Regions from separate parts of the Homo sapiens genome. Here region 1 is linked to region 2. The links come from fine-mapping of genetic effects on gene expression. A gene starts in region 2. The other region holds a variant in brackets. All regions are shown on one strand. Distances are between the middles of the regions.

Evidence for each region. PIP is the estimated chance that this variant, and not a neighbour inherited with it, causes the effect.
Region 1: its variant is fine-mapped to the expression of CNOT10 in whole blood (TOPMed, PIP 0.93).

What each region holds. Positions count from the first base shown.
Region 1 is chr3:32,765,247-32,780,896 of GRCh38, reverse strand. It overlaps CNOT10 (CCR4-NOT transcription complex subunit 10), which reads right to left. Exons shown (of 19, transcript NM_015442.3): 18 at 10,935-11,010; 19 at 7,022-7,440. The coding sequence ends at 7,286. Among named protein-coding and RNA genes, the nearest start is that of CNOT10-AS1, 36 kb to the right of the region's middle. RefSeq lists enhancers at 1-322, 323-1,043 and a silencer at 6,306-6,600. The variant T/C (reference allele first, on the strand shown) is at 7,172.
Region 2 is chr3:32,678,729-32,694,378 of GRCh38, reverse strand. CNOT10 (CCR4-NOT transcription complex subunit 10) reads right to left here and starts at 9,191. Exons shown (of 19, transcript NM_015442.3): 1 at 8,897-9,191. The coding sequence starts at 8,918. It also overlaps the pseudogene LOC124905595. RefSeq lists a silencer at 9,081-9,390.

The DNA of each region.
Region 1 (15,650 bases), 87 kb before region 2:
ATTCACACTCGGGACCACACAGAGCGCCTCTCGCGCCAAAAGCTCCGAGGTTCGTTTCAGCTTTTCTTTTCATCCGAGCGATGCATACGAAATGTAGATATTTCCCTAAACGCCGGCTTTGACATTTAATGCGATCCTAAGTAGTCTGAAATGTGGACGGGATTAGGAGGAGGCTGGGGGCCCACAGGGACACTTGGCCAAATCCCCCTAAATCCTCCAGGACAATTGTTTGTCACCACACGGATTCCTATTGCCCCAAATGAGGGGGCTAATGAACTTCGCTGCCTCCTCCCGTCGCAGCCCCACTCCCACCCTGGAGCCTGCATTTCTGCCCAGTCCTTTCTAGGAAGAAAGGGAAGATGAATTTTTAAATTGCAAGTTTTCTGCATGGGTTTGGTTACTTTAGTCCAGGCCAAGTTGACTTGGAGGATTGACTTTGACCAGTAACTAACCCACCCGTCCCGGGCTACTATTTAACTCTCACTCCATAAAGGCGCAGAGGTCAAGGATGCTGAGGCCCTGTGAATCTTGGGCTTATGTTAATAGGCCTTCACCACCTTGAAAGAAGTAGGCCCTGGGTGTCGTTGCCAGGCCTAGAAAGGACATGTCACCAAAAATTCTGTTTAGCAGGCTTTATTGTTCACCTAGAACAATCCACACACTGTATAATGCACAGCCTGTCTTCAAAGGTACTTACAATCCAGTAGGGGAAAGAAAATGGTCAACAAAGAACACGTCATGAAAGACATGCGCTTGCAGATTTGCCTAGTTACTATGGGGCTGAAACAAAAAAGCTTCTGGGACCAGAGCATGCCCTCAGTAAGCATGTGTGAAATGAAGAGTGGGGGCATAAGAGGAAATCCCTTGGAGGAGGATAGGGCTATGGAGAGGCAGTGTGGGATGCCCAGGATGTTGACACATTAAAACTGGAAGGGAGAAAATTTTAGGCAGCAGAAGAGACTGAAGCAAAGCTCTGAGGGTAGGAAATGGTGACTCCTTTTAGGGGATGGCAGAGAATCCAGTGGTGGAACAAATGGGGCATAAGGGAGGGATTAATAGTAGCTAAACTGGGTGTGGTGGCTCATGCCTGTAATTCCAGCACTTTGGGAGGTGGGAGGATCACTTGAGGCCACGAGTTTGAGACCAGCCTGGGCAACATAGTGAGACATTGTCTCTGCTTTAAAAAAAGAAAAAGGCTAAGTAGGAAGGGCAGAAAGAGACCTTCAGGTATCCCTGAAGCAACCCCTAGGCAGGAGCCAGAGCTGTGCTATAGGAAGTTACAGGCTGTGGTGAGGAAGAAAGGGTGGGAGAAGGAATCTGAGGCAAGGAGACCGGGTACCTCTTGTCATCACAAGATGAGGTCCTGGGCAAGGCAGGAAAGAATAGGATGAGAACACAGGATGCCACTAGGTGTTGAGCAAATCAAAAGTGAAGGAGGACTGGGTGCAGTGGTTTGCACTTGTAGTCCCAGCTACTAGGGAAACTGAGGTGGGAAGATCATTTGAACCCAGGAGTCTGAGGCCAGCCTGGACAACATAGTGAGACTCCGTCTCAGAAAAAAAGTGAAGGAGGTGGTAATTTATCTCAAGGAGTCCCCCTCCATTCCCCACTGTCCAGCCTCAGTGCTGTTATATAATCTTTGCTTTGATATCACTTTTACATGATACAGTGAAAATTATGGTGTTCCCTTTCAAACATTTGGGAGTTCAAGGCACATTCAGCAATGGTACAATGGCCGCACCCTTAAACATCATTCTAATCCTATGAATTAGTATCCCCATTTTACAGATGAAGAAACTCAGGCACAAAGAAGCAAAGCAACTTGTTTCATATCAAAATTGTTCCAGAGAGAGAACCAAGATTTGAAGCCAGTCGGGCTAGAGGGTCCATGATGTCATCAGTCACTTTTCTCCAGGTGGCTTCCAAGAACAGGGAGGAATGAGAGAGACTCAGAGGTAGCACTGAGATGAAGGAAGTACAGAGGGAGACTGGGCTGAGCAGGCCCTTTCGGTAACAAGAGGGATAAGTGAACTCACCTGTATTAAGTGTCCACCAGGCACACTTTGCATGCATCATCTCATTTTAATCCTCACACTAGGCCCTGAAGAAAAGCATTTTACAAACTGGTCAAAAAACCTCAAGAGAGATGAAGTCATTTGCTCAAAGTCACTTAGATTGAGTAAGGGCAGAGCTGTCAGAAAACTAGTCAGAAAGGGACTATGAGAGGTGACACTCTGATATGAAAGAGGAGGCGGAGGGTGCATAGTTTCCACATGCAGGCAGATGGCAGTGCATTGGGCAAGGCCATGCAAGGTTGCTGGCCTGTGTTCCAGTCAAGGGCATGGCTTTAACAGAGCTCTGCAGGAGGCTGTTAAGGGCCGGAGGGCACAAGGGAAGACTACTACAGCTGTTCTGAGGGTTCATGCCATGTGGTTTGGGAGACACTTGCAACAACATCCTCCTGGGTCCATGAAGAAATTCATGAGGTCGATTTTGTCCCGTATTGTAGATGATGCAGCTGAATGAGTGGTAGAGCTTCAATAGACCTAATGGCTCTCAGAATTCAAAACCCCAGCAAAGGCCAGGCACGGTGGCTGATGCCTGTAATCCCAGCACTTTGGGGGGCTGAGGCAGGTGGATAGCTTGAGCTCAGGAGTTTGAGATCAGCCTGGGCAACATAGCGAAAACCCGCTTCTACAAAAAATACAAAACTGGGCATGGTGGCTCTTGCCTGTAGTCCCAGCTACTCGGGAGACTGAGGTGGGAGGACCACTTGAGCCCAGGAGGTCCAGGTTGCACTGAGCCTTGATAGAGCCACTGCAACATTTGCCTGGGCAACAAAGCAAGACCATAGAACAACAACAACAACAAAACCCAAAAACCTAAAAACGTAAACCCCAGCAAATAAGTTGCCATATTTTGAGACTGATGCCTATGGTTCTCATATCTGCTAAATTCCAGAAAACCATATACCATAGAAGAAACTGTATTTACCAGGGAAGATACAAAGGGGGAAGAAACTGGGAACAACCAGGAAAAACTTTAGTAAGTGACATTTAAATCCTTTTTTTTTTTTTTTTTTAGACAAGAGTCTTGCCCTGTCACCCAGGCTGGAGTGTAGTGGCACGATCCTGGCTCACTGGAACCTCCATCTACCAGGTTCAAGTGCTTCTCCTGCCTCAGCCTCCCGAGTAGCTGGGATTACAGGCACCCGCCACCACGCCCAGTTAATTTTTATATTTTAGTAGAGACGGGGATTTCGCCATATTAGCCAGGTTGGTCTCGAACTCCTGACTTCAAATGATCCACCCGCCTTGGCCTCCCAGAGTGCTGGGATGACAGGCGTAAACCACCAAACATGGCCAAAAGCCTTTTTGTATAGATAGGGTTGTTACTAGAAAGGGGTCCCGATCTAGACTCCAAGAGAATTCAGAAAGACTTCAGCGTAAGTCTGTAAAGTGAAAGCAAGTTTATTAAGAAAGTAAAGGAATAAAGAATGGCTACTACACAGGCAGAACAGCCCTGAGAGCTGCTGGTTGCCCATTTTTATGGTTATTTCTTGATGATGTGCTAAACAATGGGTGGATTATTCATGTTTCCCCTTTTTAGACCATATAGAGTAACTTCCCAATGTTGCCATGGCATTTGTAAACTGTTATGGCGCTGGTGGGAGTGTAGCAGTGAGGATGTCACTCTCATCACCATCTTGGTTTTGGTGGGTCTTAGCTGGCTTCTTTACTGCAACCTGTTTTATCAGCAAGGTCTTTATGACCTGTATCTTGTGCTGCCCTATCTCATCCTGTGACTTAGAATGCCTTAAGCCTTAACCACATGGGAATGCAGCCCAGTAGCTTTCAGCCTTATTTTACCCAGCTCCCATTTAAGATGGAGTTGCTCTGGTTCAAACCCCTCTGACAGAGTTACCTCAGTTAGCAGAGGTGGCTTTAACAAAATGGGGCAGGAAAAATAGGTGGGAAGAAGCCTTCCTGGCTATGGGAACCAGTATGAGTCCAGACACAGAGGTGAAGAACTTATATTTAATTTGCTGGGCTCTGCTGACAGTAGGCAGTGGAAGGAAAAGCTGAGCTGCTGGAACATTAATCTGAAAAACACTGAATTGGCCTCCCTTAGGATGTGCAGGGCTATGCCAGCAACTGCAGCAGGCATGGTTATGACATCTTTGCCAGGCTTCCCTGCAGCTTAGGATGGCTCCATGACATGATGTGACAAAAGAGATGTTAAGCTCAAGGCTGCTGAGGTTTCTAAGAAAGTTTTGTTCCAGATAGTCTCCCATCAAGATTAGCTAGTTTTTGCCCTGTTTTTCTTGCCTTCAATGTTGATGTGATACTGGAATATCTTGTGACTATGGAAACAAATGCCCAAATGCTGAGGACAGTGGCATGGAAAAACAGAGCTGAGTCCTGGATGGCATCACGGGACACTAGAACCCAGGCCAGCAGCTGCCTTCATATCCCCTTCTCAAGTGAGAGAAAAATAATCTTTAAGTCACAGACCTATTTTTTGCTACTTGCAGCCAAATATAGTCTTATTTAATATAGGACCTGCCCTACCCTTACTAGGTATTGCCTGCTTTCCCATAAACAAACCAGCATGCAGAGAAAGTTCTAATTTCTTGATTTCTCTAAAGATGTGTTTTTTTGAAGTACAATTATAGGGCTTTTCCCCTTCATACTACCATGACTATGTGAGTTCCTAGCGATTTATGAAGTCTGTGGACTCACTCTCCAGAAAATTCCCAGGCAAAGCAATTCTGCTCATTTGAGTGGGTCTCACAGTACTGCTGTCGGTCTGGAGTATGGGAAAGCAGAGACGGCAGACTTAAACCAACAGCAGTGCAGATTACGGGTCCTATGGTCCTACTTAGAAGGGGCTTCAAGAGGTCCAAGGAAGCTAGGCTATCTCTGCTTTCTGTGTCCACCTGTAAAAATCTACTCTGTGTACAAAACAACTACAATGTGGCACTCGATCAATGGAGCCCCTACATCCATCCATCCATGTTTAAAAAGAGGAGGATATTCTCCCCTTCTTTGAGTCTGTTGGCAATGCCTATCTCAGTCACAAATATTCAGTTCTAGTATATATCATTACCTGAGTTCCGCTTCCTGTCAGCAACAGAATAATTCAGATAGGCTGGGCTCGATGGCTCACGCCTGTAATCCCAGCATGTTGGGAGGCTGAGGCGGGCGGATCACCTGAGGTCCGGAGTTCGAGACCAGCCTGACTAACGTGGAGAAACCCCCATCTCTACTAAAAATACAAAATTAGCCAGACATGGTGGCGCATGCCTGTAATCCCAGCTACTCTGGAGGCTGAGGCAGGAGAATCACTTGAATCTGGGAGGCGGAGGTTGCGATGAGCCGAGATCGTGCCATTGTACTTCAGCCTGGGCAACAAGAGCAAAACTCCGTCTCAAAAAAAAAAAAACGGCCAGGTGCAGTGGCTCACACCTGTAATCCTAGCACTTTGGGAGGCTGAGGCGGGTGGATCACAAGGTCAGGAGTTCCAGACCAGCCTGACCAACATGGTGAAACCCCATCTCCACTAAAAATACAACAATTAGCCAGGCGTGGTGGCGGGCACCTGAAATCCCAGCTACTCAGGAGGGTGAGGCAGGAGAATCACTTGAACTCAGGAGGCAGAGGTTGCAGTGAGCCGAGATTGTGCCACTGCACTCCAGCCTGGGAGACAGAGCAAGACTCCGTCTCAAAGGAAAAAAAAAAAGAATAATTCAGATAAAGTTTCAGATAAATCAGTACTTATCCACACACTTGTCTCTCTAGTTCTGAAACTGAGGTAACATGTAGATTCAGCTAATGTGTCTCCAAACTAGGGAAGTGAAGCATTGTGACGTTAAGGGATATTCCTAAATGGCAAGCTTTGATGAATCTACCAAACACCATCTTAACTAGGGGGACACCCAATTTACTAGAGCAAATCCACATTGTCTTTTGTTTGTTTGAGACAGGGTCTCACTCTGTCACTTAGGCTGGAGTGCAGTGGTGCCATCATAGCTCACTGCAGTCTTGAATTCCTAGGCTCAAACAATCCTCCCACCTCAGCCTCCAGAATAGTTAGGACTACTGGCATGGGCCACCATGTCCAGCTTTTAAAAATGTTTCAGAGACAGAGTCTTGCTATGTTGCTCAGGCTGGTCTTGAACTCCTCAAGTGATCCTCCCGCCTTGGTCTCCCAAAACATTGGGATTACAGATGTGAGCCACTGCACCCACTTGTATTGTTTTTTCCCCCTACTTAATGTTAGTGTATATACATCCTATTGGCAAATTTTGTCAACGTCAATCCCACAACACATAACTGTCTCTTGGGAAGAAGCTATTAAATTCTTGTTTGCATTTGCAAAAGGGTTAGTAATGAACCTTGAACTGCCTGCCAGCAGACTCCAGAACCTAGGAGAGTGAACAAGGCCAGTACACTGAACCCTGTTGTATTTGCACTTTTTAAGCAAATGATTCCTAACAGATCAGTTGTGTCTTCTTTTTTGAGGCAGTCTTGTTCTGTCGCCCAGGCTGGAGTGCAATGGTGCAATCTCGGCTAACCGCAACCTCGACCTCCTAGGTTCAAGCGATTCTCCTGCCTCAGCCTCCTGAGTAGCTGGGACTACAGGTGTGTGCCACCATGCTTGGCTAATTTTTGTATTTTTAGTAGAGACGGGGTTTCACCATGTTGGCCAGGCTGGTCTCAAACTCCTGACCTCAAGTGATCTGCCCACCTCAGCCTCCCAAAGTGCTGGGATTATAGGGATGAGCCACTGTGCCTGGCCCAGTTGTATCTTCTTAACCTACTTTCTCAACACATTTTCTGGTCTTTTCAGTCATAACTAGACATAAAACACGTCAACTCTCTTTCCCTCCCCTTCACCCCCAGGTCAGCTTCTGAACTGGCTATTTCATCTACTGCTGATGTTCTTTGTCAATTTTTGAACGTTAACACAAAACCTCAGATGCTAAAATAATCTAATAGTCAATAAAAGTGTAAAAGACTTCTGATAAAATTATGTTTTAATTGCCTATGGCATATATTACATAATGGCTCAAAATTAATAGTCTGGCTGAAATTAAGAAAAACAGCTGATGATGACTTAGTAAATCCTTAATTTTAAGTAAGCTTTTGGCCAAATGTCAGGGGTAGAA[T/C]TGACTCAAAATTAACAGCCTTCACCATCTTTTATTCATTCTGCTGTGATACAACTAAAATGGCCAGTAAATTCTCCCCTGGGTCTCAGGTAACAGTTTTCCAAAAGTGAAGTATCACTTTCTCTGCACAGTGGTGAAAGCCGGCATTTGGATGGGCTGGATCGGGTGGACAGGCTGAAACACTGGCTTCTTTCTCACTTCAGAGTGTGTTTTCACTGCAGGGAGCAGCTGATTCCTTTTGATGATCTGTAAGGCCAGCTGAGTATTACCTATAAAAACACTTCCCGTTAAAAAACAAAGCACAGAACAATACTGCCACACACAAAGCAAGACATGAAAATCCTGCTGGGGAGGTAAAAGATGATCTAGAAGAGCTGTCATCTGCAGCCTTGGCTGTATACTGGAATCCCATAAAGCCTCCATCTTATCCCCAGAAATTCTGATTTAAGCGATGTAGGGCATGGCCCAGGCAATGGAATTTTAAAAAGCTTCCCAGTGATTCTAAGGTATAGCCCAGGTAGAGAACTTGTTATAGGTGGGCTGTATAAAAGAAACAATCATCTGGGAGGGTTGGTTCATGCCTGTAACCCTAGTACTTTGGGAGGCCAAGGTGGGCAGATCGCCTGAGCTCAGGAGTTCGAGACCAGCTTGGGTACCATGGTGAAACCCCGTCTCTACAAAAAAATACAAAAATTAGCTGGGCATGGTGGTGCATGCCTGTAGTCCCAGCTACTTGGGGGGCTGAGGCAGGAGGGCTGCTTGAACCTGGGAGGTCAAGGCTGCAGTGAGCCAAGATCACGCCACTACATTCCAGCCTGGGTGACAAAGTGAGACCCTGTCTCAAGACAAACAAAAAACAATGAAACAATCTAGGGCAATGCACTAACCCTAATCACATCTTTAAGGAGGCTAAGGCCCGCTGGGTGCCAGGCACTAAAGACCCCTTCTTCAGCTATTAAAAAAAAGGGAGCCTTGTAAGAGTTCCCAAGGTCAACAAGGAGTTATGCCTTAGAACATTGGGTTTTTTTTGAGACAGAGTCTTGTTCTGTGGCCCAGGCTAGAGTGCAGTGGGGCGATTACGGCTCACTGCAACCTCCATCTCCCAGATTCAAGCAATTCTCCTGCCTCAGCCTCCAGAGTAGCTGGGATTACGGGCATGAGCTACTGTGCCCAGCCTTTTTAAAATTTTTTATTTTTTAAAAAAGAGACAGGGTCTCACTATATTGCCCAGGCTGGAGTGCAGTGACTGTTCACAGGAGCAATACTGCACACTATAGCCTTGAACTCTTGGCCTTAAGCAATCCTCCCGCCTCAGCCTCCAGAGTAGCTAGGACTCCATGCTTGGCTGTGACTTCATTTATGTCCCTTTTTTTTTTTGAGACGGAGTCTCGCTCTGTCGTTCAGACTGGAGTGCAGTGGCACGATCTCGGCTCAGTGCAACCTCCGCCTCCGGATTCAAGCAATTCTCCTGCCTCAGCCTGCTGAGTAGCTGGAACTACAACTGTATGCCAACACGCCCAGCTAATTTTGTGTATTTTTAGTAGAGACAGGGTTTCACCATGTTAGCCAGGATGGTCTCGATCTCCTGACCTCATGATCTGCCCGCCTCGGCCTCCCAAAGTGTTGGGATTACATGCATGAGCCACCGCACCTGGCCTATTTCTGTCCCTTCTAATCTCTCTCATTCATGTCTCTTTTCTACTTCATGCTATCTCATATTTAGAGCCAACAGCCTTTCTTCTAGTGAGATACATCTTGGAGATCGTATATGCCCTAGAGGCATGACCTGAATTTATGTTTGAATAAATAATTCTCAGCAAGAACTGGCTTACTGTAAAACTTGTTAATATGTGTTCAAAATACTATGGTGTATAACTCAAAGCAACTGCATTCTAACTCATGTTCTCAGTCATTTAGCTGCCTAGGAGAAAGGTTAATTAATAGTGATTAATTATAATTAAGTGTCTGAAGTTATGATTCTGTATTTTCTCAGATAAAAGGAGATAAGCTTAACTTGTAAGGAGTATTTGTAGGATACCAAAAACTCCCTAACTATATCTATCAATTTATCTATTTATCTATCTATCTATCTAGATAGATATAGGTATTTATTATTATTATTATTTGAGACAGGGTTTCACTCTGTCGCCCAGATTGGAGTGCAGTGGTGTGTCTCGGCTCACTGCAACCTCCCACCTCCCAGGCTCAAGCGATTCTCCTGCTTCAGCCTCCTAAGTACCTGGATTACAGGCATGCGCCACCACGCCTGGCTAATTTTTGTATTTTCAGTAAAGATGGGGTTTTACCATGTTGGCTAGGCTGGTTTCGAACTCCTGACCTCAAATGATCCACCCGTGTCGGCCTCCCAAAGTGCTGGGATTATAGGCGTGAGCCACTGTGCCCGGCCTATTATTATTTTTTTAGACAAGGTCTTATTCTGGCATGATCTCAGTTCACTGCAGCCTCAACCTCCAGGGCTCAAGTGATCCTCCAATCTCAGCCTTCCCAGTAGCTGGAACTACAGGCGCACACCACCACACCCAGCTAATTTTTGTATTTTTTGTAGAGATGGGGTTTTGCCATGTTGCCCAGGCTGGTCTTGAACTCCTGAACTCTGGTGATCAGCCCACCTCAGCCTCCCAAAGTGCTGGGATTATAGGCATGTGCCACTGCGCCCAGCTCCTAACTATATTTTTATGTAGAAGAATTTGATGGGTCGTCGCTCTGGCTCACGCCTATAATCCCAGCACTTTAAGAGGCCGAGGCAGGCAGATCACCTGAGGTCAGAAGTTCAAGACCAGCTTGGCCAACGTGGTGAACCCGGTCTCTACTAAAAATACAAAAATTAACCAGGCATGTTGGTGGGTGCCTGTAATCCCAGCTACTTGAGAGGCTGAGACAGGAGAATCTCTTGAACCTTGAACCCGGGAGGCGGAGGTTGCAGTGAGCTGAGATAGTGCCACTGCACTCCAGCCTGGGTGACAGAGCGAGACTCCATCTCAAAAAAGAAAAAAAAAAAAGAATTTGATGGGTCACCTATCTTCAAGGAAGGCAAATTTCTGACTCTGAAGAGAAAAAACAGACATTAAAAATCTCAGCCTTGCCGGGTGCGGTGGCTCACGCCTGTAATCCAAGCACTTTGGGAGGCCGAGGTGGGCAGATCATGAGGTCAGGAGATCGAGACCATCGTGGCCAACACGGTGAAACCCTGTCTCTACTAAAAATACACAAAATTAGGTGGGCGTGGTGGCGGGCGCCTGTAGTCCTAGCTACTCAGGAGGCTGAGGCAGGAGAATGGCATGAACCCGGGAGGCGGAACTTGCAGTGAGCCGAGATCGCGCCACTGCACTCCAGCCTGGGCTACAGAGCAAGACTCTGTCTCAAAAAAAAAAAAAAAAAAAAAAAAAATCTCAGCCTTGGCTGAGCATGGTGGCTTATGCTTGTCATCCCAGCTACTAGGGAGGGTAAGATGGGAGGACTGCTTGAGCCCATGAGTTTGAGAGCAGCCTGGGCAACAAAGCGAGACCACATCTCTAAAAAAAATTTAAAAAATTAGTTGGGCTCAGTGGCGTGCACCTGTAGTCCCAGCTACCTGGAAGGCTGAGGTGGGAAGGCTGCTTGAGCCTAGGAGTTTGGAGGCTGCAGTGAGCTCTGATGGTACCACTGCACTCCAGCCTGGGCAACACAGTGAGACCCTGTCTCCCAACCAAAAAATCTCAGGCTCTTTCAAGGGATAAAGTCCTAAACAGAGAGAATTACTCACCATTCTGCAGTTCAAGGTAGACTGCCAGCAAGATGGCCTCAGGGGGCACCTCTTTAGGATGGATCATTGAAGCCGCCTTTGCTCAAAACAGAAAGATGCCCGTGAAAAAACAAAAGCTTAAGATACACACTCCAAGTACATCTGCCAACCAACAAGGTAACAAACTTATTCAAGCTCATTCCCACGTGACTTCCTAGGGACTACCTGTTGTTCTGCTCTGATGAGCCTCAGTTCCTTTTGTCTTAAAACCTAACAATTAAGCTAGACATGTAATACTCTGGGTTTTGAGATGGGTGACTGGACACCCCGATACTACAGTCAACCATCCAATTCTGCTGGTGGCTTTCACAACAGACACATACAGTTGCAATTACATCAAAATCTGCATGCCCATTTGTTTTCCTAAGTAACACTTCAGTATTACAAACTGTAAGTTGTCAATGTCAGGAATAATAATTCAAACTTATAGTAATACAGAAAAAACGTACCACGTAGCATGTTTGAGGTCTCCATTCTTAAGGACTGAAACACACTTCAATTTAGTCCAATAAAATAATTTACTAGTTTAGGCAACATGCTGCCCTTAGATCTGAGTAAGAGCCATAGCATCGGCCAGCAGTTTCTCTCTGATCCAGTCCTGAAGAAGGAAGCCTGGACTGCTCTGGACAGAAGTGCTGAAATTACAGGTTTATTTCCTCAGTCTGGGCCTCTTTGAGCTACAGCCAAAATATTCCTCACCTTATTATCAACTTGTACTTCCCCATCTAGTTTTAGTTGCTCATTGCTTCCAGACAGCTCTGCCTCTTCTCTTAATCTAATCAGATAATAGACTTCTACAAATACTTATTGAACAGAGGTGGGTATGGAGATAAGACAGGGACTTCCCCTGATAACAAACAAGCATGCAAATAACTAACAATAATCCAAACACAGTTACGTAAATGCCAGGGAGAAAGGCAGTGAATGTGCTGTGAATATGGAGAGAAAGGAAGAAGTTTCTTTCAAACAGAGCTTTGGGGTAAGGGAGGCCTGCTTTAGTCCTTGCAGGGTAGATATCTCACAGGTAGAAAATGGGGAGAAATGGTACTGAAGGTAGCAGCTTGAACGTGGGAGATGTTGGGGAAGACCAGAAACGTGTACTAGGTTGGTTTCTGGCAGCATTAGGAGAAATCTCAGACTAGCGGGGCATGTTGCCCAGAGCATGTGCTTCTAAGAAGTTCCTCATGAATGAGGTGGGGAGGCTTTTATTCCTCTCGCCACAACACTGAGGTATAACAACTCTTTTCAGAAAATGAGATTTTATATATCTAAGCCTAGCTTTCTAGGCAAGCTGTATAGGCAAGATCGTCTTTATACCATTTTGTGGATTTTTTTTTTTTGAGACGGAGTTTTGCTCTTGTTGCCCAGGCTGGAGTGCAATTGCACGATCTAGGCTCACTGCAACCTCCGCCTCCTGGGTTCAAGCGATTCTTCTGCCTCAGCCTCCCAAGTAGCTGGGATTACAGGCTCCTGCCACCACGCCCAGCTAATTTCTTGTATTTTTAGTATAGACGGGGTTTCATCATGTTGTCCAGGCTAGTCTTGAACTCCTCACCTCAGATGATCCACCCGCCTTGGCCTCCCAAAGTGCTGGGATTACAGATGTGAGCCACTGTGCCCGGCCCATTTTGTGGATAGTAAAATCTCTGTTTTCCATCCAAGTGGCTAGTAACACATTTTATTTACTGTTTTTTTCAATGACCACAGTCTGAAGCTTTTTTTAAAATACAAGAATTCAAGGCAACATCTTTATGATACTTAATGGCATTTTGCTTACTGGCTGTTCAGAATGGTTAGTGGTGGGCAGGCAACCTTGGAAACATCTACTCGGAGCCCTTTCCAACTCTTCACATCACTGTTCTTCCCTCCCAGGCAGGGTGGGCCTCCCAATTAACAAAGGTCCAGCCATTGGATTAACCTAAAAACCAAGGGACCAAAACAAAACCCCCTTCAGACCCCAAACCAGGCCTGACCCCATCTGTCTCTCCCAGCGTGGCAGCAGCCATGGCCACCTGCTGTACGAGAACCTCAGCTGGACTGTACACACTGTAACTTTAGATCAAAAGCTCTGTTTGCTGCAGTGACTGAGGTCTGGGGGCACTTTGAGAGGGGCTGCTCAACACCCTAGCCTTGTTACTGAGAAGAGTGAAACATTTTAACTCTTACTGGTTTAACTCATACACTCAATGCCTAGATAATATCAAACATGTTACCCTGGACAGCCTGTCACTTAACTTTTCTGATCTGGGATCAGAAATGCTGACCAGATGCCACTAAGTTGACTAAATAGAATTTGTAGTTATTTTTCACATGGTAAAGCATCATCACTTCTAGGCACAACAAGGCTGCTCACATAAGCAGGAACCTATGTGAAAGCCACATAGGCTTTTTTTTTTTTTTTTTTGAGACAGAGTTTCGCTCTTGTTGCCCAGGCTGTAGTGCAATGGCGCGATCTCGGCTCACCACAACCTCCACCTCCTGCGTTCAAGCAATTATCCTGCCTCAGCCTCCCGAGTATCTGGGGTTACAGGCATGTGCTACCACGCCCAGCTACTTTTTGCATTTTTAGTAGAGATAGGATTTCTCCATGTTGGTAAGGCTGGTCTCGAACTCCTGACCTCAGGTGATCTGCCTGCCTCGGCCTCCCAAAGTGTTGGGATTACAGGTGTGAGCCACTGCGCCCGGCTGAAAGCCACCCTATCTCCTGAGAAGAGGTTTAATATCAACTTTAGTTGCTGTGGCAAGCATGTGGGGATGTGGGCCTTCTCATCTGCTGCTGGAGAATGTACCATTTGATACAAACTTTCTATATCAGAAGTCTTAAAATCCTGCATATCCTCTGACCATGCAATTCCCTTTTTAGGAAGGTGTCTCCTAACTGCAAAGGTCTACAAGCAAGGGCAAGATTGTAGTATGTCTGCTTATGTGCAGTCTTATTCCCATGGCTTAGCTCAGAAGTAAGTGCTCAACAGATATCTGCTGGATGAATGTCCTTTTGAGGAACTATTTCTAATTTTGTGAGATTCCTCTGGGGCTGCCAATGGTGGTACCCAGTCCCCTACTACAGGTATGGCTCAATGCCCATGATTGGTCCAGGGATTGGCAGGTGACCTACTAAAGAGATCCAATCAAAATCTTCCTTGAAGCTTCATGATGCACCATTTCAGTGGTAGAATTCAGAGGTTTATTTTAGTTATATATTGCCAGTAGCTTTCTTTAGTGTGTATGGAGTTTCTCTAGTATTGGCTTTCTGAAAGGTGGATTTATAATTCACTTTTTTTTTTTTTTTTTGAGACAGAGTCCCGCTCTGTTGCCCGGGCTGGAGTGCAGTGGCGCGATCTTGGCTCACTGCAAGCTCCACCTCCCGGGTTCATGCCATTCTCCTGCCTCAGCCGCCCGAGTAGCTGGGACTACAGGCACATGCCACCACGCCTGGCTAATTTTTTTGTATTTTTAGTAGAGACAGGGTTTCACCGTGTTAGCCAGGATGGTCTTGATCTCCTGACCTCATGATCCGCCCACCTCGGCCTCCCAAAGTGCTGGGATTACAGGCATGAGCCACCGTGCCTGGCCTATAATTCACATTTTGAAAAAAGATTTACACAATTCAAAATTTAAAAGCACCTGGGCACGGTGGCTCACACCTGTAATCCCAGCACTTTGGGAGGCTGAGGCGGGTGGATCACCTGAGGCCAGGAGTTCGAGACCAGCCTCAACATGGAGAAACCCCGTCTCTATTAAAAATACAAAATTAGCCGGGCGTGGTGGTACATGCCTGTAATCCCAGCTACTTGGGAGGCTGACGCAGGAGAAGTGTTTGAACCCGGGAGGCGGAGGTTGCAGTGAGCCGAGATTGCGCCATTGCACTCCAGTCTGGGCAACAAGAGCGAAACTCCGTCTCAAAAAAAAAAAAAAAAAAATTAAAAGCATAACAGTATACAGTGAAAAGTCTCCCATTCTACTGCTCCAGCCATGTAGTATTCGTCCTGCCACCCCAACAACTAATGTTTGCAGTTTCTTGGTGTGTCCTTTCAGAGATCTTTTATGCATGTATACAGGGTTATACAGAAACTGTTTCACACCTTGCTGTTTTCATTTAGTATGTCTTGGACATCTTTCCATTTTAGTACCTAGAGTTTATAGCTGCATTGTCTTCAACTGTACAGATGCACTATTATTTATATAAGTGATCTTTTAGACAGTTTTCCATCTTTTGGAATTTTAATAATTAAAACTGTCAACTTACTTCTTTTGTCTTTTTTTTTTGGGGGGACAGGGTCTCACTCCAGTTGCCCAGGCTGGAGTGCAGTGGCATGATCTTGGCTGACTACAGCCTCAACCTCCCAGGCTCAGGTAATCCTCCTACCTCTGTCTCCTAAGTATCTGGGACTACAGGAATGCACCACCATGCCTGGCTAATTTTTGGTATTTTTAGTAGAGACAGGGTCTCATTATGTTGCCCAGGCTGGTCTCAAACCCCTGGACTCAAGTGATCTGCCTGTCTCAGCCTCCCAGAGTGTGGGATTACAGATGTGAGCCACTGTGCCCGGCCCCAAGTTGCTTTTTATTCTGCTGATTTGAAATTTAAACATCTTTTTTTTTTTTTGAGACGGAGTCTCGCTCTGTTGCCCAGGCTGGAGTACAGTGGCACAATCTTGGCTCACTGCAACCTCCGCC
Region 2 (15,650 bases):
TACACCGAACTTAGACAACTTATTCTACTTGGAGGTCTAATTTTAAAGGCCTGTGATGAATGTCTAAACTCATTTCAAAGTTCACCTTCAACATAACATCTTCAAACATAAAATGTTAACTACTTAAAAAATTTTACCAAGACTACACTTTCAGGGATCATTTCTACAGTTTGTTACTGGAGAAGTTTCTCTGAAAGTGTAGAGTACCAAACACTTTTTTTAAATTAAAAAAAAAAAAAATTTATCAAGTGAGAACTATTGCAACCCCCCCACCAAACCCCAACAATATATTCAATTTTAAGTATAATTGCTAGACTTAAAAAGACAAAATTTTTGTATTTTAACATGTGTCAAGAAAAAAAAATTTCCTGAGAATAACTTACATACCTAAAAAATTAAACTTATAGTGACTCTTAGGTACTCTCTAATGTCCACAAAATAAAATAACTGCAATAAGGTTTCAATTTAAATTCACAAGTATAAATCAATATTCAGTCAATTATACATTTTAAATTGAAATCATAAGACTAATATAAGTGCCGGGCATGGTGGCTCACACCTGTAATCCCAGCACTTTGGGAGGTCAAGGTGGGAGGATGGCTTGAGCTCAAGAGTTCAAGACTAGCCTGGGCAACATGACGAAACCTCATCTCTACAAAAAATACAAAAGTTAGCCAGGCGTGGTGGCGCATGCCTATAGTCCCAGCTACTTGGGAGGCTGAGGTGGGAGGATCGCTTGAGCCTGGGAAGTCAAGGATGCAGTGAGCAGTGTTCATGCCACTGCACTCCAGCCTGGGTGACAGAGTGAGACCCTGTCTGGAAAAAAAAAAAAAAAGACCAATATATTACTCTAAATTCTAATATTAAAAACACTTACTCACGCCTGTAATCCCAGCAATTTGGGCAGTCAAGGCAGGAGGCTTGCTTGAGTCCAGGAGTTTGAGACCAGCCCGGGATACATGGCAAAACCCTGTCTCTACAGAAAAACAGAAAAACTGGCCAGGTGTGGTGGCATGTACTTGTAGTCCCAGCTACTTGGGAGGTTGGGGTGGGAGGATCACTTGAATCCGGGAGGTCGAGGCTGCGGTGAGCCAAGATCATGCCCCTGTACTCCAGCCTGGGCAACAGAGTGAAAGCCTGCCTCAAAAAAATTAATTAAATTTAAAAAAGAAAAAAAACCACTTTAAATATCAAACATAGGTCACTACCACATCAACTCCTTGTTCTGAAAACTGGTAATTGAAAATAATGAATTAAGCTTTTAGCATTTAACATGGCTTTCTGGGAAGACTAACAGTCAATATGGGAAAGCTATTCTTTTTTGTTGTTGTTTCTGAGACAGGGTCTCACTTTGTAGCCCAGGCTAGAGTGCGGTGCTGTGATCACGGCTCACTGTAGCTTCGACTTCCTGGGCTCCAGTGACCTCCTACCTCAGCCTCCCAAGTAGCTGGGACTACAGGCACGCAGCAGCACACCAACTAAGTTTTTTCAATCTTTTCGTAGAGACAGGCTCTCATGTTGCCCAGGCTGCTCTTGAACTCCTGGGCTCAAGCGATCTGCCTACCTTGGCCTCCCAAAGTGCTGGGATTACAGGCATGAGTCACTGTACCCAGCCCAGGAGAGCTACTCTTTAAAGAAGAATATTCACTAACAAAGGTAGAAACTACAATAGAACTAGGTAAAAATCATTTTGTAACCCTCAATAATACAACTGATTGAGGAAAGAATCAACAACAGTGGATATTTACGAAATGCCAATTACTCCATAAATTACCTCTAACTGAAAATGGAAAAAGATGTTCCTGTCAGCACCTCAAATTGATCAAATTTAGCATCACTAATACTGGATAACCTGACATTATGTACTTTATACAGAAAATAAAGTATATAACATCACCTACAAAGTTTCTCAAAAATATGTTGAACCTATATCTAATCAAGCCTGTAGAAATAAGTTAGAGTTTAAGAAAATACAGGAGATAAAGCTGGGTGCAGTGGCTTACACCTGTAATCCCAGCACTTTGAGAGACCAAGCTGGGAGGATTCCTTCAGCCCAAGAGTTTGAGACCAGCCTGGGCAATATATTGGGACCCTGTGCCTACAAATAAATTTTTAAAATATAGCCATAGCTGGGACTACAGGCACATGCCACCACACCCAGCTAACTTTCTGTATTTTTTGTAGAGACAGGGTTTTACCATGGTGCCCAGGCTGGACTTGAACTCCTAGGTTCAAGCAATCCACCCACCTCGGCCTCCCAAAGTGCTAGGATTTATAGGTATGAACCACCATGCCTGGCGGGAAATTGGCTTTTTTTTTTTTTTTTTGGTGACAGGGTCTCACTCAGTCACCCAGGTTGGAGTGCAGTGGTGTTTATCTTGGCTCACTGCAACCTCTGCCTCCCAGGCTCAAATGATCCTCCCACCTCACCCTCCCTTGTAGGTGGGACTACAGGCATGCGCCACCACTAATTTTTTACATTTTTGGTAGAGACAGGGTTTCACCATGTTACCTACGCTGGTCTCTAACTCCTGAACTCAACTGATCCTCCCACCTCAGACTCCCAAAGTGCTGGGATTACAGGCGTGAGGCGCCATGCCTGGCTGGCAGGAAATTTTTAATATATTAAAACATGAATTGTCTAAACTATGACAATGGCATCATGGTTACATAGGTGAATGTCCCTATTTTTAAGAAACGCATGTTGAAATATTTAGAGATGAAGTGTTATGATGTTTATAACCTATTTTGAAATGATTCAACATTAAAAGTCATAGCTAGAGCCAGGTGTGTTGGCTCACATCGGCACTTTGGGAGGCCGAGGCGGGCAGATCACTTAAGCTCAGGAGTTCAAGACCAGCCGGGCCAACATGGTCAAACCACGTCTCTACTAAAAATACAAAAGTTAGCTGGGCATGGCCAGGCACAGTGGCTCACGTCTGTTAATCCCAGCACTTTGGGAGGTCGAGGTGGGTGGATCATGAGGTCAGAAGATCGAGACCATCCTGGCTAACACAGTGAAACCCCGTCTCTACTAAAAATACAAAAAATTAGCCAGGCATGGTGGCACACACCTGTAGTCCCAGCTACACAGGAGGCTGAGGCAGGAGAATCACTTGAACCCAGGAGACAGAGGTTGCACTGAGCCGAGATTGCACCACTGCACTCCAGCCTGGGCAACAGAGTGAGATTCCATCTCAAAAAAAAAAAAAAAAAAAAGCTGGCTGTGGTAGCGTGTGCCTGCAAGCCCAGCTACTCGGGAGGCTGAGGCAAGAGAATCGCTTGAACTCGGGAGATGGAGGTTGCAATGAGCAAAGATCGTACCACTGCAGTCCAGCCTGGGCAACAGAGTGAGACTCCATCTCAAAAAAAAAAAAAAAAGTCATAGCTAGTGATAGAGGAAGCAAATATGGTAAAATATAACAATTGCTGAATGAACTAGGGGGTAGATATATAGATATTCATTTTATTTTTTAAATTTTTTAGGTGTTTGAAATCATTCATAATAAAAAGTTGAAAAAATACCAAATAAGTCTGGGCGCGGTGGCTCATGCCTGTAATCCCAGCACTTTGGGAGGCCGAGGCGGGCGGATCATGAGGTCAGGAGTTAGAGACCAGCCTGGCCAACATGGTGAAACCCCTTCTCTACTAAAAATACAAAAAAACTAGCCGGGCATGGTGGCATGCACCTGTAGTCCTAGCCACTTGGGAGGCTGAGGCAGGAGAATGGTGTGAACCCGGGAGGCGGAGCTTGCAGTGAGCCAAGATCGCACCACTGCACTCCAGCCTGGGCAACAGAGCGAGACTCTGTCTCAAAAAAAAAAAAATTATCTGGATACAGTAGTACACACCCGTAGTCCTAACTACTCAAGAGGCTAAGGCAAGAGGATTGCTTAAGCCCAGGAGTTCATGGCTGCAGTGAGCTATGATGGTGCCACTGCACACCAACATGGGTGAAAGAGTGAGACCCTGTCTCAAAACAAAACAAAACAAAAAAACCAAAAAACTCAGAGCCTGAGATTATATCATTTAACCTGTTACCATACCTGTGAGGTAGATACTTTCATCGTTCTCATTCTACACGCAGGAAAGCTGAAGCTTAAAAAAAAGACTTCTTGAAATTTGCCCAATTTCCCACAAATACCAAGTAGTACAGCTAGGATGAACCTAAACTATCTGATTTCAAAGCCCCTACTCTTATCATTCCTTACCTGGATCAGTTAAATATAAATCAGATCACACCATCATGCCCTTATTGAAAACTTCCACTCTCTTCCCATTAGTTAAAATGAATTCAAACTCCCTCCATGGCCTGTAACGCCCAACATACACCAACTCCTGATACAACTGTGACTTTATCTCTTGCCATGCTGCCTTTGCTCCCTATGCTATAAATTATGTGTATTGGCTTTTTTGTTTTCTGTTTGAGACAGGGTCGCACTGTCACCCAGGCTACAGTACAGTGGCACAATTATAGCTCACTGCAACCTTCAACTCCTGGGCTCAAGCCATCCTCTCATCTCAGACTCTGGAGTAGCTAGGACTTCAGGGTCACGCCACCATGCCTAGCTAATTTTTTTTTATTTTTTACGGAGACAAGTCTGGCTATGTCGCCTAGGCTGGTCTTGAACTCCTGGCCTCAAGCGATTCTCCCACCTCAGCCTCCCACAGGTGTGAGCATCTATGCCCAGCCTTAAATTATGTGTTGAGTGTCTCTTGTCAGATATTGTTCTAGGGACTAGAGCTAGAACACAACTAACACAGACAAAAGTCTCTATCTTCGGGGAGCTTGTATTCAAGGGGTCTGCTTGATGTTCTTTAGACATTTTCCAAGCAAGGGTTCTGTACATTTGCATATTTGTTGCTCCTCTTACCTGGATCATTCTTCCCAACACAGCTGGCTCTTTATCCTTAGGGTTTCTGTCTAAATGTCAACTCTAAGAAAGCCCTTCTCTAATCTATCTGAAAAACAAGGCTTTCAGTCATCCTCTATTCTTTTTTTTCTTTTTCTTTTTTTTTTTTTTTGAGATGGTGTTTTGCTCTTGTTGCCCAGGCTGGAGGGCAATGGCACGATCTTGGCTCACTGCAACCTCTGCCACCTGGGTTCAAGTGATTCTCTTGCTTCAGCCTCCCGAGTAGCTGGGAATACAGGCGTCTGCCACCACGACCAGCTAATTTTTGTATTTTTAGTCAAGACAGGGTTTCAACATGTTGGCCAGCCTGGTCTCAAACTCCTGTCCTCAGGTGATCCACTCACCTCGGCCTCCCAAAGTCCTGGGATTACAGGTGGGAGCCACAGGCACCCGCCAGCAGGCCCTGCTAATTTTTTTGTATTTTTAGTAGAGACGGGGTATCACTGTGTTAGCCAGGATGGTCTCGATCTCTTGACCTCGTGATCTGCCACCTCGGCCTCCCAAAGTGCTGGGATTACAGGCGTGAGCCACCACGTCCGGCCTTTTATTTTATTTTTTTGAGAGAGGGTCTCATCCTGTTGCCTGGACAGTGGCGTGATCAAAGCTCACTGCAGCCTTGAACTCCTAGGTACAAGCAATCCTCCCACCTCAGCCTCCCTAGGAGCTGAGACTATAGGCACACACCATGATATCTGGCTTTTTATTTTTTAGAGTCAGGGTTTCACTTATGCTGCCCAGGCTGGTCTCAAACTCCTGGCCTCAGGCAATCCTCCCACTTCAGCCACCCAAAGTGCTAGGATTACAGGTGTGAGCAACTGCAGACAGCCTCTCTTACTCATTTTTTTCTTCTGAGTATTATTTTTTTTTTTGAGATGGAATCTCACTCTGTCACCCAGCCTGGAGTGCAGTGGTGCGATCTCGGGTTGCTGCAACCTCTGCCTCCCAGGTTCAAGCAATTCTCCTGCCTCAGCCTCCCAGCTAGCTGGGATTACAGGTGTGCGCCAGCATGCCTGGCTAATTTTTGTATTTTTAGTAGATGGGGTTTCACCATGTTGGTCAGGCTGGTTTTGAACTCCTGACCTCAGGTGATCCACCCCCCTCAGCCTCCCAAAATGCTGGGATTACAGGTGTGAGCCACTGCACTTGGCCTTCTTCAGAGTATCTATCACAACTTGAAATCATCTTATTTTTCATTTTATTTACATGCTTATCTGTCCTTCATAGTAAATAAGCTCCAGAACAGAGACTTTGTTTTGTTCCTGCCCAGTTCCTAAAGTAGTACCTGGCAAAACAGGCCATTGGTGAATATTTACTGAATAAATTAATATCACAACATTAACTCATCTTAGGTGGTCTCTAGGCTTCCTGTCTTACTTCATTTAAATCCACCACCTACAACAGTCAGTGTGATCAGATCACTCACCTTAAGTCCTTTCATGACCCTTTTTTCTTACCTGATGAAGAACACACACACAAGACCCTCCGTGACAAATATCCTGACCTCGTGAGCTCAGAGAGGAAGCAGCATGTAAGATAGACTGAATGAATAGTGTTCACCAGACGGAGAAGAGAAAGGACACTACGGCTCAAAAGCTCAAAAAACACAATGCTTTGCAACAGTAATTTATGATGTGAAGAGCTGGGTGGGTTGATACAGAAATCCAGCTGGAAATAGATTTTGAAGATGCTCACAAACCACATTAGAGTGAGGACGGCAGGGCGCGGTGGCTCACGCCTGTAATCCCAGCACTTTGGGAGGGCGAGGCAGGCGGATCACAAGGTCAGGAAATGGAGACCATCCTGGCTAACATGGTGAAACCCTGTCTCTACTAAAAAATACAAAAAAATTAGCAGGGCGTGGTGGCGGGCGCCTGTAGTCCCAGCTACTCGGGTGGCTGAGGCAGGAGAATGGCGTGAACCCGGGAGGCGGAGCTTGCAATGAGCCGATATCGCACCACTGCACTCCAGCCTGGGTGACAGAGCGAGACTCCGTCTCAAAAAAAAAAAAAAAAACAAAAAAAAAAAACCGTGAGGACTTAAAAGGAGAAAGAAAATACAATAAAAATTAAATAAAAAGAATGATGACTTGATGCCCAAAGCATGTACAGTCTTAGAAACTTTATAGGAAGGGGAATGACAGGATTCAATGAATGTCTTAGGACATAAAAAAAGCGGGGGGCGACAGTGAGGAAAATGGATGGGATAGGAAGAGACAAGAGACAAACACCAGTGAGAAGACTACTCAATGCGACATAGATCATATTAAAAGATAAAGGCCAGAAACACAGCAGATGAGATGGAGATGAGCAGAGATTCAAAGGAGCTACACTAAACACTCATCTATTTTATTCAAATTTAACCTTATATCAAAGCAGGAAGTTTCCTTCAATATGGCCTATAAACTTAAACCAATGAAAAAAACAGTCCCCTAATCACTGTGGACCTTATTCTTCAACTACACACATTACACAGCTCTTACCAAACAGGAGTGCAGCTAGGATATGCCTGTCTCCTCCAACAGACTGAACAGCAGGTCTTCAAAGGCAGGGAGTGTGTCATATCCATTATTCAACACTCAATCTTTGCGAATGAATAAATGAACAAGTAGAAGGCTTTATGACTGAGGATTTGAAAACTGGATGGGCTTTAGGTCTAAAAGGGTGATTTCGGGCAAGCGCAATGGTATGAGCAAGTAGGAATGGTAAATGTGGGGAACACAGACACTATTCTAAAATAAGGAGGAAGATGTTGGTCCCCTGGTCCAGCCTTGGACAGGCCATGCCGTTTTCCTGTCTAATAGTCTCTCCCTCATCCACCTTTCCTCATTTCTTATGGCTCATTCCCTCACTTCTTACATATCTCTGCTCAAATATCATCTCACCAGAGGCCTTCCCTGAACAACCTATCCAAAATTTCACAGCACATTCCTTATACCCTCTCAAGGCCTTTGTTCTGTTGTTTTTCTTCTTAGATTATTGAAGAGATCCTCTAATGATTTTTATTCCTCTGTACCTAAAATAGAATTGGCTTAATTTCCAAGTGAAGTTCATTTGTCAGTTATTGTGACCAGAACCTACTAAAATCCACAGCACACTGAGTTTTTCTTTAATTTTAAATTAAATTCACTGTAAAAATTTTAAGTTCCATCACTTTTAAATCCTGTCACTTAAGTTCTTTCCAATAAAACCTGGATGCCACAAAGAATATGAATTTCTTGCGGGAAACATTCCGGACAAGGTCAGGAAATAATTTTATATTCCTTAATGTGGAAGATTCTAGGAATGGGAGCAATAATCCATAAAGAAAACCATTGAGATTAAGTAATTTCGAGGAACTAGAGCAATTAAGTACCAAATGCAAGATTTTAGGAGCACAGACTGTAGAGAGACAATAGGATTTTATGCCTTTTTAAATAAGTGGTTTACTTTGAGAGGCCAAGGCGGAAGGATCGCTTGGGCCCAGAAGTTCGAGATCAGCCTGGGCACCATAGCGAGACCCCCGCCCGTCTCTATCAAGAAAAAAAAAAGTGGTTTTTACAAAGTTAATTTCACAGGAGTCAATGACCAGAGGAAGCCACATGTGGTCAAAACAGCCCAGGTGAATCCCAGCCTCAGCCACGCGATATTATAGGCAGATGTGTGCTCCAGGGTGACTTTCTCTTGTCTGCTTTTCCCACGAAGAAGCGGAAAATTCTGCGAAGCGGCAAAATACATTTAAGCTTTTTGGGCCGGAGTTATTCTGAAGAGCAGGGCAAAGGCGGCCAGTGGCGACTTCAAATACTGCACTTGAGTAAAACAACTATTGGACCCGGGGCCCGAAGACTCATGTTAGCGACAGCCGAGACAGAGGATGGGGTAAAGAAATGCACGCCCAAATTCAAGTCGCCCTGGAGTCCCCACCCCGGGCCCCGCCGCCTCCGAGTTCAGGGTCCGCCCGGCCCCGCACGTCCCGCCGTCTCGTCGCTCGGGACATTGGCGCCCTACCTGCAGGCTTGTCTGCAGCCATCTTCCCGCTTCGACTCGGGTTCTTCCCTGCAGGTGGCGTGGCCCTGACTCCCGCCGCCGGGCTGGCCGCTGTCCTGGACCTCCGAGGACAACTCTGTGCCTACCCCGGCTCCGGGCCCCCAGGTTCCGGCTAGAGGAGTGGGCAGACGGCGGGCTGAGGAAGTGACGAGAGCTAGTTCCCGTCGTCTAGCAACAGCAACAGCTTCCCCACCAAGGGACCGCCACAGCCTCCCGCCATACACAGCTTCCGCCTCACGGCGTCCCGGTACCCACTACTTCCGGGGGCGGCAGCCTGCCGCGCCTGGAGCGCCGGCGTGGGAACTGCTACTGGCCCCGCCCCACGCCGACGTCCCCTCCGCGCCCCGCCTCCGGCCGGACGTACTCTGGCTGGAACCTCTGGATGTTCACAGGGCTGACGCGGTGGGACGTACGCGCGTCTGTCCTTTGCTTACTCTAATTAAAACACCGAGGTGTCAGAGCTTTTGTCCCTCAATGTTACATAATATTACAATAACCACATCTGACATTTATGTGCTAAGCACTGAGCCCTGCACTTGGTCTGTACTATCTCATTGATTTCTTGCAACCCCATGAGAGAGGCGCTGTTGAGGATTCCCGTTTAAAAAGAAACGCCTTTTATTTTAGAATAGTTGTAGTTGTGCAGAAAAGTTGCAAAGATGACACCTAGAGTTCCTGTCTCCTCACCTAGTTTCTCCTATTGTGAACATCTTAATTATTTTACTATGTTACGTTGATCACATCTAAGAAACCAGTTTGATTGGCGCACTATTACTCACTAAACTACACATTTTATTCACATTTACCAGCTTTCTTTCAATGTCCTTTTTTTGTTGTTGTTCCAGGATCCTGTCCAGGACACCATATTGCATTTATTCATTATGTCGTCTTAGGCTATTTTTGGCTGTGGCAGTTTCTCAGATTCTTCTTGTTTTTGATGACCTTGACAGTTTTGAAGAGTTACTCCTCAGATATTTGGTGGAATGTGCCTCAATTTGGGTTTGGCCAATATTTTTCTCATGGTTAGACTGGGGTTTTGGGTGTTTAGGAGGAAGACCACAAGGTGACTGGCTGTTCTCATCACATAGAATCAAGGGTACATGCTGTCAAAATGACATCACTGATCATGTTAACCTTGATTACCTCTCTAAGGTAGTGCTTGCCAGTTTTCTCTACTGTGCAATTACTCCTCCTACCCTTCCACACTACTTTGGAACCAAGTCAATAAATGCAACCCACACTCAAGGTGGGAAGGCGGGGTATTTAAGCTCTACCTCCTGCAGTGGGGAGTATGTACATAAATTATCTTCCCCAAGGGAAGTTTGCCTCTTCTCCCTCACTTAGCTATTTATATCAGTATGGACTCATGGATGTTTATCTTATAATGGTTACATTCCAATACTACATTATTTTGTTGCTAAAATTGTCCCAGCTTTGTTAATTGGGAGATTTTTCAGGTTTGTACCTGTTTTTTTCTTTTTTTTTAACTTTTGTTTTAAACTTTCTTTTAAAAAAGTATTTGTTTTTGGCCGGGCGTGGTGGCTCACACCTGCAATCCCAGCACTTTGGGAGGCCAAGGCAAGTGGATCACTTGAGGTCAGGAGTTTGTGACCAGCCTGGCCAACATGGTGAAACCCCGTCTCTACTAAAAATACAAAAATTAGCTGGGCGTGGTGGTGTGCACCTGTAATCCCAGCTACTTGGGAGGCTCAGGCAGGAGAATCCCTTGAATCCGGGAGGCGGAGATTGCAGTGAGCCAAGATTGCCCCACTGCACTCCAGCCTGGGCAACAGAGTGAGACTCTGTCTCAAAAAAAAAAAAAAGTATTTGTTTTTTCTTAAACTTTTTAATTCAGGCTAACATACACAAAGAAAAGTGCATGAATCATAAGTACAGTGTATTGACTTTTCATCAACTCAACACATACATATAACTAGCACCCAGAGAAAGGGCAGAGCTTTACCCATATCTGGGAGTTCCCCTCATGCCTCTTCCCATCTCTCCACAAAGATAATCATTATGCTGACATTTAACACTATGGATTAGCTTCACCTGCTTTTAAACTTAATGTATATACATTATACAATATATTTTTTAGGGTCTAGCTTCTTTTGCTCGATAGTATGAGATTCATTGACATTGTTGAATGAAGTTGTATTTGTTTCTCATTGTTATATATTATAATGTTACATTATGTGAATATTCCTTAATTTATGTATTCATTTTATTGTTGGGCATTTGGATATTTTATCTATTTTGAATAGGGCCAATATGATTACTCTAGTATGACTTTTGATGAATATGTGCCCACCATAAAAAGGCATACCTGGCTGGGCAAAGGCATACCTGGCCGGGCACGGTGGCTAATGCCTGTAATCCCAGCACTTTGGGAGGCCGAGGCAGGCAGATTACCTGAGATCAGGAGTTTGAGATCAGCCTGGCCAACATGGTGAAACCCCGTCTCTACTAAAAAAAAATACAAAAATTAGCCGGGCGTTGTGGCGGGTGCCTGTAATCCCAGCTACTTGGCAGGCTGAGGCAGGAGAATTGTTTGAACCCGGGAGGCAGAGGTTGCAGTGAGCCGAGGTCGTGCCATTGCACTGCAGCCTGGCCAACAAGAGCAAAAGTCTATCTCAAAAATAAATAAATAAATAAATAAAATAAAGAATAAAAAATAATAAAAAGGCACACCTGAAGTGTAGTAGGGAGCCTCTTAATGAAAAGGAATTAGGAGGAATCTCTTATAGAATTTGGGCTTATTCTAGAGGGATTGGGAAAGTAGGAGGCCAAATTTGAATTGGATGCTGTCAGGAAACAAGCAATTCAGTCTTGGTTTTATCTAAACAGAAGGAGGAACAAAGCAAGCTAGAGCTGTCATTGGTTAAAAAAAAAGCGGGATCATTTACATTAGAAGAAGGGGGTGTTTTCCCATTTGTGTGGTTGTTGAGGGCCTTGTTTCTGTCTTGTCCAAAACACGATCATGGTGAAACTGTCTATGAACATTGTTCATATTCTGTGAGTGCTGTTTATGTCCAGTTGGGAACATTCTACTAACAGAACTGTTTTTTTTTTTTTAATTTTCTTAGTCCCCTTTTCACTTTCTCACATGTGGTCACATCTATGTTGGTTCTTGTCCCCCATTTCATAGATAGGGAAACTGAGGCACAGATGTTAATCCACTTTCCCAAGCCACAAGACTGGTAAATGGCTATTATCTTAACCACTACATTCTAGATTCTAGGATTTGCTATTATATTGAAGATATTTGGGCTCTCTTCCCTCTACTTTCCGTATCAGCAGCTCTCCCTTTTTTCACAATCAGGCTGACATCAATGATGGATAACTAATTCAGGAGTGGGGAGGTGGAAAAGCTCAGTAGGATTTTGCTCCGTCATAAACTACGGTGAGTCACTTTACCTCCAGCTAATAATGATACCACTATCCATTCACAGTACTTTAGACTGTATGTGGTTTGTTTGTTTGTGTCTGTGTTTTGAGACAGGTTTCACTCTGTTACCCAGGCTGCAGTGCAGTGGTATAATCATGGCTCACTCCAGCCTCTAACTCCCAGTTTCAGGTGATTCTCCCACCTTAGCCTCCCAAGTAGCTGGGACTACAGGTGCACGCCACCACACCTGACTAATTTTTTATATTTTTGTTATTTTTATTTTTATTATTATTTATTTATTTATTTATTTATTTTGAGATGGAATTTCTCTCTTGTCAACCAGGCTAGAGTGCAGTGATGCGATCTTGGCTCACTGCAACCTCCACCTCCCGGGTTCAAGCAATCTTCCTGCCTCAGCCTCCCAAGTAGCTGGGATTACAGGCGCAAGCCACCGTGCTTGGCTAATTTTTCTTTTTTTAGTTCACCACATTGGCCAGGCTGGTCTCGAACTCCTGACATCAGGTGAACCACCCGCCTCAGCCTCTCAAAGCGCTGGGATTACAGGCGTGAGCCACCTCGCCTGGCCTAATTTTTTGTATTTTTGGTAGAGACCGGGTTTTGCCATTTTTCCCAGGCTGTTCTCAAACTCCTGGACTCAAGGGATACACCCACCTCGGCCTCCCAAAATGTTGGGATTATAGGTGTTAGCCACAGTGCCTGGCCTATATGTGATTCTTACTGCTTGTGGAAGACTGCCTCCAGAGAATCATACAATATGTGACCTTTTACATCTAGCTTCTTGGTTGACAACTCTTACCATCCCAATACGCACATGCTGCTCCTCCCATCCATCAGGAGGTGGAGTCGAACCCAATGTATAGCATGGTGACTATAGTTAATAATAATGTATTGTAAGGTTGGGTGTGGTGATTCACACCTGTAATCTCAGCACTTTGGGAAGCTGATGCAGGTGGATCACTTGAGCCTAGGTGTTTGAGACCAGCCTGGGAAACATAGCGAAACCCTGTCTCTACAAAAAATACAAAAATTTGCCAGGTGTGGTGGCAGGCACCTGTCGTCCCAGCTACTCAGGAGGCTGAGGTGGGAGGATTGCTTGAGCCTAGGAGTTGGAGGTTGCACTCCAGCCTGGACAACAAAGCAATATCCTGTCTCAATAATAATAATAATCATGTATTGTATATGTGGAGTCTTCAAAAAGTTCATGGAAAATATGTATTATGAAAAAACTATGCATGAATTTCAAACTCTTTTTGCACCAAAATAAATTCATACTAACTTATTATAACATGTCAAAATAGGATCCAGTTTGAGGCACTAAGAAAGATAAGACATCAGTTTGAAAAGAGCCCCTTTCAGAGCAATATGAATTCTGCTAAAATTGAAGCAAGAACAAACACCACATTTCTGGTAAAGCTTGGATGGAAGAATGGTGAAATAATTTATCCTTTATAAAAGGTTTATAAAGAGAATGCCCCCCGCAAATCAGTAGTTTACAAATGCATAACTCGTTTTAAGAAGGGATGAGATGGCCAGGTGCAGTGGCTCATGCCTGTAATTCCAACACTTTGGGAGGCCGAGGTGGGTGGATCACTTGAGGTCAGGAGTTCAAGACCAGCCTGGCTAAAATGATGAAACCTTGACTCTACTGAAAAAATACAAAAATTAGCCAGGCGTGGTGGGGCGTGCCTGTAGTCTTAGCTACTCAGGAGGCTGAGGCAGGGGGATTACTTGAACCCAGGAGGTGAAGCCGCAGTGAGCCAAGATCGTGCCACTGAACTCCAGCCTGGGTGACACAGTGAGATTCCATCTCAAAAAAAAAAAAAAAAAAAAAAGAAGGGATGAGACAATGTTGAAGACAAAGTGCAAAGTGGCAGATCATCCACATCAATTTTCAAGGAAAAAAATCTATCTTGGTTTGTGCCCTAATTGAGTAAGACAGACGATTAACAGCAGAAAAAATAGCCAATACCATAGACATCTCAATTGGTTCAGCTTACACAAGTCTGACTAAAAAATTAAAGTTGAGCAAAATTTCCATTAAATAGTTACTCAAACAGTTGCACCCTGATCAACTGTAGACAAGCAAAGGTTTCAATGGAAATTTTAAACAAATGGGATCAAAATTCTTAAGCATTTCTTCTAGGAATTGTAACAGAAGATGAAACATGGCTTTACCAGTACAATTTTGTAGACAAAGCATAATCAAAGCAATGACTACCAAGAGGTTGGAGGGGTCCAGTCAAAGCAAAAGCACACCAATCAAGATCAAAGATCGTGGCAACAGTTACTGGGGATGTTCAACTCATTTTGCTTGTTGACTTTCTGGAGGGCCAAAGAATAATAACATCTGCTTATTATGAGAGTGTTTTAAGAAAGTTAGCCAAAGTTTTAGGAAAAAAAGAAAAGAATTCCGGGTGCGGTGGCTCACGCCTGTAATCCCACCACTTTGGGAGGCTGAGGTGGGCAGATCACGAGGTCAAGAGAGCAAGACCATCCTGGCCAACATGGTGAAACTCTGTCTCTACTAAAAAATACAAAAATTAGCTGGGTGTGGTGGCATGTGCCTGTAGTCCCAGCTACTTGGGAGGTTGAGGCAGGAGAATCACTTGAACTAGGGCGGCAGAGATTGCAGTGAGCCAAGATCACACCACTGCACTCCAGCCTGGCGACAGAGTGAGACTCTGTCCCAAAACAAAACAAAACAAAAAACAAAAAAACTGAAAAGAAAAGAAACAAAACCACACAGGAAAGCTTTACTAGAGAGACTTTCTCCACCACAACAATGCTCCTGTTCATTCCTCTCATCAAACCAGGGCAATTTTTTGAGAGTTTCAGTGGGAAATCATTAGGCATCCACCTTACAGTCATGATTTGGCTTCTTCTGACTTTTTTTTTTCTAACCTTAAGGCTAAGGCAGGCAGATCACTAAAGAACTGAGGGGCCTGGGGATTTAACCATGTCAATGCATGTCTTTTTTTCATTGTTAGCTGAATAAAATGGGTGCCCTTTAAGATTTTTTTTTTTTTAATGGAGTCTCCCTCTGTTGCCCAGGCTGGAGTGCAGGGGCATGATCTCAGCTCACTGCAACCTCCACTTTCCAGGTTCAAGCCATTCTCATGCCTCAGCCTCCTGAGTAGCTGAGATTGCAGGCGTGCGCCACCACACTGGGCTAATTTTTGTATTTTTAGTAGAGAGAGGGTTTCACCAAGTTGCCCAAGCTAGTCTCAAACTCCTTACCTCAAGTGATCTGGTATCATCATTTATAAGTGTCTTGAACTCAATGAAGTTTATGTTAAGAAATGAAGT